2 linked regions of the Homo sapiens genome follow. The protein of the gene in region 1 purifies or fractionates together with the protein of each later gene. This does not show direct contact. Each region holds a gene or a part of one and is shown in the gene's direction. Other genes may lie near its edges.

Region 1 (3,649 bases):
TCTGGCCATGTGGTAGCTCATGCCTATAATTCCAGCACTCTGGGAGGTGGGAGGATCACTTGAGCCCAGAAGTTAGAGACCAGCCTGGGCAACATGATGAGACCTCATATCCACAAAAAATTAAAAAAATTAGCCGGGCATGGTGGCATGAGCTTGTAGTCCCAGCTACTTGGGAGGCCAAGGCAGGAGAATTCCTTGAGACCAGGAGGTCAAAGCTGCAGTGAGCTGTGTTCATGCCACTACACTCTAGCCTGGGTGACAAAGTGAGATACTATCTCTAAAAAAAAAATAGGAAAACAAGGTTCTCCCTTCTGGAACTTATGTTTTAGGGGAGAGAGACAATAACCATAATAAATAAATAATCAAGAAAAATATAGTCACAAGTGCTATGCACAGAATTGAGACAGGACGGTATAATAGACAATCAGTAAGTAAAGTTGTAACCCCTAAACTGAGATCTGAATAGTGAGGAGCCAGATGTGAGGAGATCAGGGGAAGACCTTCCAAGTCCAAGGTCCTCAGGCAGAATGCTTTGGAGTGTTTGAAAAACCAACACTCCAATCCCAGCTGGTTGACTCATTGTGAAATACGCAGAGAGTGATATGCAAAACGGTGGGGAGGGCCAGATCACATAACACCTTGTAAGTCATAGGAGGGAGTTTTTTTGTTTGTTGTTGTTGTTTTTGAGACAGAGTCTCACTCTGTTGCCCAGGGTGGAGTGCAGTGGCGCGATCTCAGCTCACTGCAACCTCCGCCTTAGGAGGGGCATATGCCACTACACGTGGCTAATTTTTGTATTTTTAGTAGAGATAGGGTTTCACCACATTGGCCAGGCTGGTCTCGAACTCCTGATGTCGGGTAATCCACCCACCTCGGCCTCTCAAAGTGCTGGGATTACAGGCATGAGCCTCCGTGCCCGGCCGGGAGTTTTTAGGTGTGTGGTGGGAAGCTGTTGGGAGTTTTATTTTTATTTTTTTTTTGAGATGGAGTCTCACTCTTTTCACCCAGGCTGGAGTTCAGTGATGCAGTGTCGGTTCAGTGCCACCTCTGCCTCCCAAGTTCAAGTGATTCTCCTGCCTCAGCCTCCTGAGTAGCTGGGACTACAGGCAAGCATCACCATGCCTGGCTAATTTTTGTATTTTTAGTAGACATGGTCTCGCCATGTTGGCCAGGCTGGTCTCAAATTCCTGACCTCCTGACTCATGTATGTAATCCCAGCACTTTGGGAGGCTGAGGCGGGCAGATCACAACGTCAGGAATTCGAGACCAGCCTGGCCAACATGGTGAAACCCCGTCTCTACTAAAAATACAAAAATTAGCCGGGTGTGCTGGTGCGTGCCTGTAATCCCAGCTACTCAGGAGGCTGAGGCGGGAGAATTGCTTGAACCCAGGAGGCAGAGGTTGCAGTGAGCTGAGATTGCGCCACTGCACTCTAGCCTGCACGACAGAGCAAGACTCTGTCTCGGGGAGAAGAAAAAAAAAAGGTGATTTCTCAAAGCTCACCGTAGCCGCCCTCTTGGGAATGGACAGTGACACAGCAGCAAAGTGGAAATGGAAAGACTGGTTAGGAGGCGCAGGTGAGATCTGGGTGAAGAAACAGGGAGTGGCGGGCGAGATGGAGAGAGTAGTGGACATATGGGCTATTCCGAAGTAGAGTTGACAGGACTTGCTGGTGGTGTGGGTCTGGGGAACCAGAAAAAAAGAACCATCAAGGCCAAGTCCTAGTTTTTGCCTTGAGCATCCAGATGAATGGTGACACCATTTGCTGCACTGGGGGAAACTTGAGTAGTTTTAGGGTTGTGGAATGGAATCTAGGTGGAGTGGAATCTAGGGTTCTCTCTTGACTGCATTAAGTATGAGGGGCTTCGGGGAATGATACTGCCCAGGGTGCCTGCGTGTTGACACTGCTTTGCCCCCTAGCTGAGGCTGTGTCTGAGTTTTGTTCATGTGCCAGGGAAGCCTGATGGGTCAAACATCCTCTCAAACAGGAGCGTGAAGCACAGAGTATTGTGTAAATAATTGTTGTTAGGATACGATGATAGAAATTACAGCTGAATTTGTTTTCTAATACTTCTGGAGTGTTGTTACTTTTGTAATGCACATATAAAAGAGCATGTATGGGATGAAGTTCCTTGCCAATGGGAACGGAAAAAAGGGAACTTGGCATGTGCATAAATCTTTTTAGGGCGAGTGTGAAGGTAATGAAGTGAAATTAGAATTAAACTGTTCTTGTGGCAGCCACCAGGGGGCGTTGCCGGCCCCTGAGCAGGTTGATGGACACCTAGGGGCAACGTGGCACCAACCCCGGACATAGTATGCAAAGGACTGTTTATATCTACAGGATGTGTGCAAGTTGTGTTTGTAATTCTGTGTATGAATCTGTCCATGTTGATGAATTCATATTACCCCATTAAAAATGAATTATCTGCCTCCTGCCTGGAGTGAAATTAAATACAGATTATCTGTTTGGTGGTTTGTTTCTGGAAGAACTCTATTTCTTTTTCTTTTCTGTCTCTCTCTCTCTTTTTTTTTTTCTTTTTTTTTAAGGCAGCATCTCACTCTGTTGCCCAGGCTGCAGTGCAGTGGCGCGATCATGGCTCACTGCAGCGGCGCGATCATGGCTCACTGCAGCCTCCACCTCCTGAGCTCAAGCAGTCCTCTCCATTCAGCCTCCCAAGTATTTGGGACTACAGATAATGCACCACCATGCCAGGCTAATTTTTTAAAATGTTTTGTAGCAATGGGGGGGTCTCAGTATGTTGCCCAGGCTGGTCTCAAACTCCTGGCCTCAAGCAATCATCCTGCCTCGGCCTCTCAAAGTGCTGGGATTACAGGCATGAGCCACCGTGCCCAGCCTCTATTTCCTATATCCCATTGACTAATATTTACGGACCAAGAGTTTGAAAGATGACAGTGGATTCTGTTCATTCTCTAAAGCCATTGCAGTTTGGTATTTAATCTTTTATTGTTGTTGTTGGCAGCTTCATGGCATGTCATTTTTACCAAGGACTGGAAGAATAGGAGAATTCAGACATAGAATAAATTGGGAGTCTGTTTGCTCAGCTGGGGTCCCAGTAATAGTCAGTCTCTCATTTTTCAACTCAGTGAAGTCGTTTGAAAATAAAACTCCAAAGAGGAGTTAAGGGCGCTGAGCTGCTTTGCAGCTCCCTTTGTGGCTCATCTCTGCGTGACTGAGAGGAAGCACCATGCCCCAATGGCAAACATGAGTGGGTGAGGCGAATGGAGCAGGTGTGGAGGATCCCTTTGTGGTTCTAGGACCTCTGCCAACAGAGGAATCTTATCAAGAAGTGGGACTGGCCCTAGCTTTGCTTTATTTATGAGCTTGCATGCTTGAGAAAGAAAACAGCTGTTTTGGCCATTCTTGTCAATGGCCATATTTAAGTTCTGATTTCACACACATCACAGAGTGTTTACTTAAACAGTCTTTTTCTTTTTTAACTTTAAAATGAATTATAGGCCAAGTATGATGGCTCACACCTGTAATTCCAGCACTTTGGGAGGCTGAGGTGGGCGGATTGCTTGATTCCAGGAGTTCAAGACCAGCCTGGGCAACATGGCAAAATTCTGTCTCTACAAAAAATACAAAAATTAGCTGGGCATGGTGGCATGGCATTGTGGCCCCAGCTGC
Region 2 (3,649 bases), on another chromosome or scaffold:
AGGCGCTTTCGGCCCCGGCTGCCTTTCTTCCTTTGGGACTAACAGCTATGTAGAAGAGGCAGCCCACCCCTAAGGTTCAGGCATCTGCTCAACTAAAGCAGCTGCGGTTCTGAGTTGGGTTAGAACATTGCAAGAGTTCATCAAGAGACGGGGGAGAGTTCGGAGGTCAGGGTGAGGTGAGTCCCAGAGGAGACCAAGAAGAAGTGATGTGAACTAGGTTTGGAGGGATGAGTAGGAGTTTGAAGAAGAGAGAAAGGACTTGAGATAGATAAAAACCAGTATGAATAAAGACTGGGAGGTGTTGTCACTTGTGAAGTATTCAGAGATGTGGCAGATCACAGAGGGCATTGAATGCCCTGTTAAGTACCTGTAATTTTACTCTGAGAACCCAGAGAGAAAACACCAAAGGTTTAAAGCTTGGATAGGGAGGGTGGAGTGTGCTGTGGTCAGGTTTATGTTTCCAGAAAATGCTCTGTGGCTATGGGAAAAGGATGGAGACAGGATGCCCAGTGGGGCAAGAGGGTGCAGGTAAGTAAGGTGAGAGAAGATGCTGGCTTTGATAGGTGGTAGCATGGTGCCATCTTGAAGGTACACTTGTCAGGACAGAATGATTTATTGGATGTGGGAGTGAAGGAGAGGAAGAGGAAGGAGTCCAGGTTCCTCGGAGTGGTTGAGCGGGCCTTCACTGAAGGCCCTGAAGCTTCACTGTGTTAGGGACTTGGTGAGGAGGGGCAGAGAATAAGCTCTTAGTTGGACATGTGGCCCTTGAGGTACTTGGGACATTGGAGGCTCAGTGGGGGAGGCACATCAAGGAGGGGCTTTGGTGTGAGGGTATGGGAGAGAAATGTCGGTCGGACCAAGAGAAGCGAGAGCTGTATGAGAGACCATAGAGCTGTGCACCTCGAGAGAAAGTAACCTCCGACAGTGGTGAAGAGCTCGAGTTTTATACTGCTAGGATTGGACTCTGTTTACTAGCAGCGTGACTTTAAGCAAGTGGCTTAACCTCTCTGAATCCGCTTCCTCATTTGTCAAATGATTATAATAAAAACCCGTGCCTTATAAGGGTTGTTATGAGGATTAAAGATAGTATGCATAAAGTGTGTGTAGCACAGGGCTTGGCATCTAGTGAGTACTGTTGTCTGTGTTTGCAGTTACTGTAATCATCCTCAACTGGGATGGTGTAAACCCACCCTCCCATCAGGGGTCACATGAGGTTGCCTTTAATGAGAAGATAGACTGCTAAGGTTAGGGTCCCTGTCTGCCTAAGGTTGCTGCAATTCTGAGCTGAGATTAGCAGGTCAAGGAGCTCAACAAAGGGGGTGCCTGCCCCTATTGTTATCGATGGGATTGTTTGTGTTGCTCAGGTGTTTGACCTTCAGGTGGGTGGGCTTGAGAAGACTAGAGGTGAGGCCTGCAGAAGAGACTCCATGTTTGGGGTAGGTGGAAGGGAATTTTGAGAAGGGGCAGCCTTGGGGTATTGAGTTCTCCATTTCCTCCCACCCTCCCTGGGCCCTGGGCTTCTACTGAGGCTCTTTCTGCCACCATCTGCCTCTGTGGTCCAGATGCACCATGTCTCTGTGTGACCGTGACTTCTAGGTCTGAGAACTCTGGTTTTAGCTCCTTAGCAGTATTTTAGCTGCTGTTTCTGGGGACTGTTCCTGGTGCAGCCACAGGGGCATTCTGGGGGTTGCTCCAGAGGGCAGCTGTGCCTGCATTCCCCTAGGTATCATCGACTTGCTCCTGACCCACTGCCGGGCCAGGTTTCAGGCCTGGCAGATGATGGGGAACCCTACTGGGGCCAGCCCTGCGTTGGCCCCAAGGGCTTTCTTTCTTGATATTGGACATGACTGTGGACTTCACCCCTTCTGAGGCCTTCCTGGGTGCCAAGCAGTGTGATTTCTTTCTTTTTCTCTTTGGTTTGAAACAGAATCTCACTCTGTTGCCCAGGCTGGAGTGTAGTGGTGCAGTCGTGGCTCACTGCAGCCTCCACCTCCTGGGCTCAAGTGATCCTCCCACCTCAGCCTCCTGAGTAACTGAGACTACAGGTGTAGTCCCACCTGGCTAATTTTTGTATTTTTTTAGAGACAGGGTTTTGTCATGTTGTCCAGGCTGCTCTTGAACTCCTGGCTCAAGTGATCCACCTGCCTTGGCCTCCCAAAGTGCCGGGATTACAGGGGTGAGCCACTGTGACTGGCCAGCAGTGTGATTTCTAACTTGGGTCCTGAACCATTCAGGCCCTTTCTGAGTAGCTTTCTAGTCAACCTTCCAGATGTCAGCTCTGGCTCTGTTCTGGGGGTGTATCTGGTTGTCCTGGTTGTTCTGGGCTCTGTCCCAGTGTGAGTGTAGAGTGGGTTCTGGGAGCTGCAGTTGGTGAATCTGAGTCTTTATTTGGTTGCCTGATAGGTTGTTTTGAGGTCAGTTTGATCCCAGACTGACGTGGTTCAAAGTTACTGTTTGGCTTTTCTAGGATCCTGCCCTCATGCTGTTCTGTGTGCCTCAGGGTCTTTGCAAATGTTTAGTCTTCTAAAATGGCCCCTGGCCACTTTGGGTACACACCTCTTTCCAGGTGTGGCTTCTGCTCCATGTAGGGCCTGTCTCAGTCTCCAAGCACGAGACCCTGCTGTGGCTGGGTGTGGCAGCAGCGCCTGGCCAGCTTGGGGGGCCTTTCCCATTACCCAGTTCCCTGCCTTGGACTCTGCCCCTCTGCCCAGGGTCTCTGCACAATGGTGCAGCCAAAAACCTCACTTGAATACTGTGAGGCCCTGCGGGCATCTCTAGACAAATGGGCCTTTAAGTTTGGGGCCTGGAAGCTGGTTTGTCTGGCCAGACCTGCTGGGCAGCCTGTATGCTGGGAGCAGCAGCTGCTGGAAACTCAGCTTGGGGAGCGGGGAGGGAAGCATGCAGAGAGGGCTGCGGGTTCTGGTGCAGGTAGGTGGGGCAGTGGAGGCTGGGTCGCCAAGCTGGCGAGGGCCATCTTGGGTCAGTTGGGATGGCCTTCAGTCGGTGAGAGTACCCCCATATTGGCAGAGGTGGTTAGTGCAACTTGAGGGTAATTCCCAGGTGCAGAGGTGTGTCCTTGATTTCATGATGAGGGTCAGTCTTGGGCCGGTGAGGACATTCCCACGCACCACCCTCCCACTGTGGTTTCTTTGTGTCCGTTATAGGAGGAGCCAAGGTGGCAGAGTGGTGTGGGGTGGGGATCACTGTGCATGTGGGGGCTTGAGGTGAGAAGCCTGCTGCAAGGTGCAGCTTGCGTCGAGTAGGCCAAACAGCTGAGCTTCCGTGAAGTGGTGATGAGGTGGTATGGGTGTGTCTGACCCCCACCCCCACCCAGGATGGTACCCACGCTGGTGGGGACTCAATAATGGCTCTAGAAGGAAGGGGCTGGGCTCTGTCGCTGCATGTGTGCCAGCGGAGGAGGCATCCAGGGGCACGCCTTCATTTTAAAAATTATAGAGTAGAGAAAGTCAAAAATAAATATTGCTTCTGAAGCTTCTTTGAAGACTGGCATGTATGTTGGGGTGTGTTCTTCCAGGCTGGGCTGTTTTCTTTGAACTCATTCATGCGTTCATCCACTCATTCAGTGTATGCTGACTGAGCACCTACTATGTGCCAGCTGTCAGCCAGGCGCTGGGGATACGGAAATGAG

The links. Proteins that work in one complex are often made in the same cells at the same time.
Region 2: the proteins of MANSC1 (region 1) and PTPRF purify together in Homo sapiens (affinity purification with mass spectrometry; 2 studies listed by BioGRID and IntAct, with this or other methods). This does not show direct contact.

What each region holds. Positions count from the first base shown.
Region 1 is NC_000012.12:12,333,174-12,336,822, reverse strand, and holds part of MANSC1 (MANSC domain-containing protein 1 isoform 1 precursor), read left to right. Parts: intron 1-3,649.
Region 2 is NC_000001.11:43,533,873-43,537,521, forward strand, and holds part of PTPRF (receptor-type tyrosine-protein phosphatase F isoform 1 precursor), read left to right. Parts: intron 1-3,649. UniProt on the Homo sapiens protein: Possible cell adhesion receptor. It possesses an intrinsic protein tyrosine phosphatase activity (PTPase) and dephosphorylates EPHA2 regulating its activity.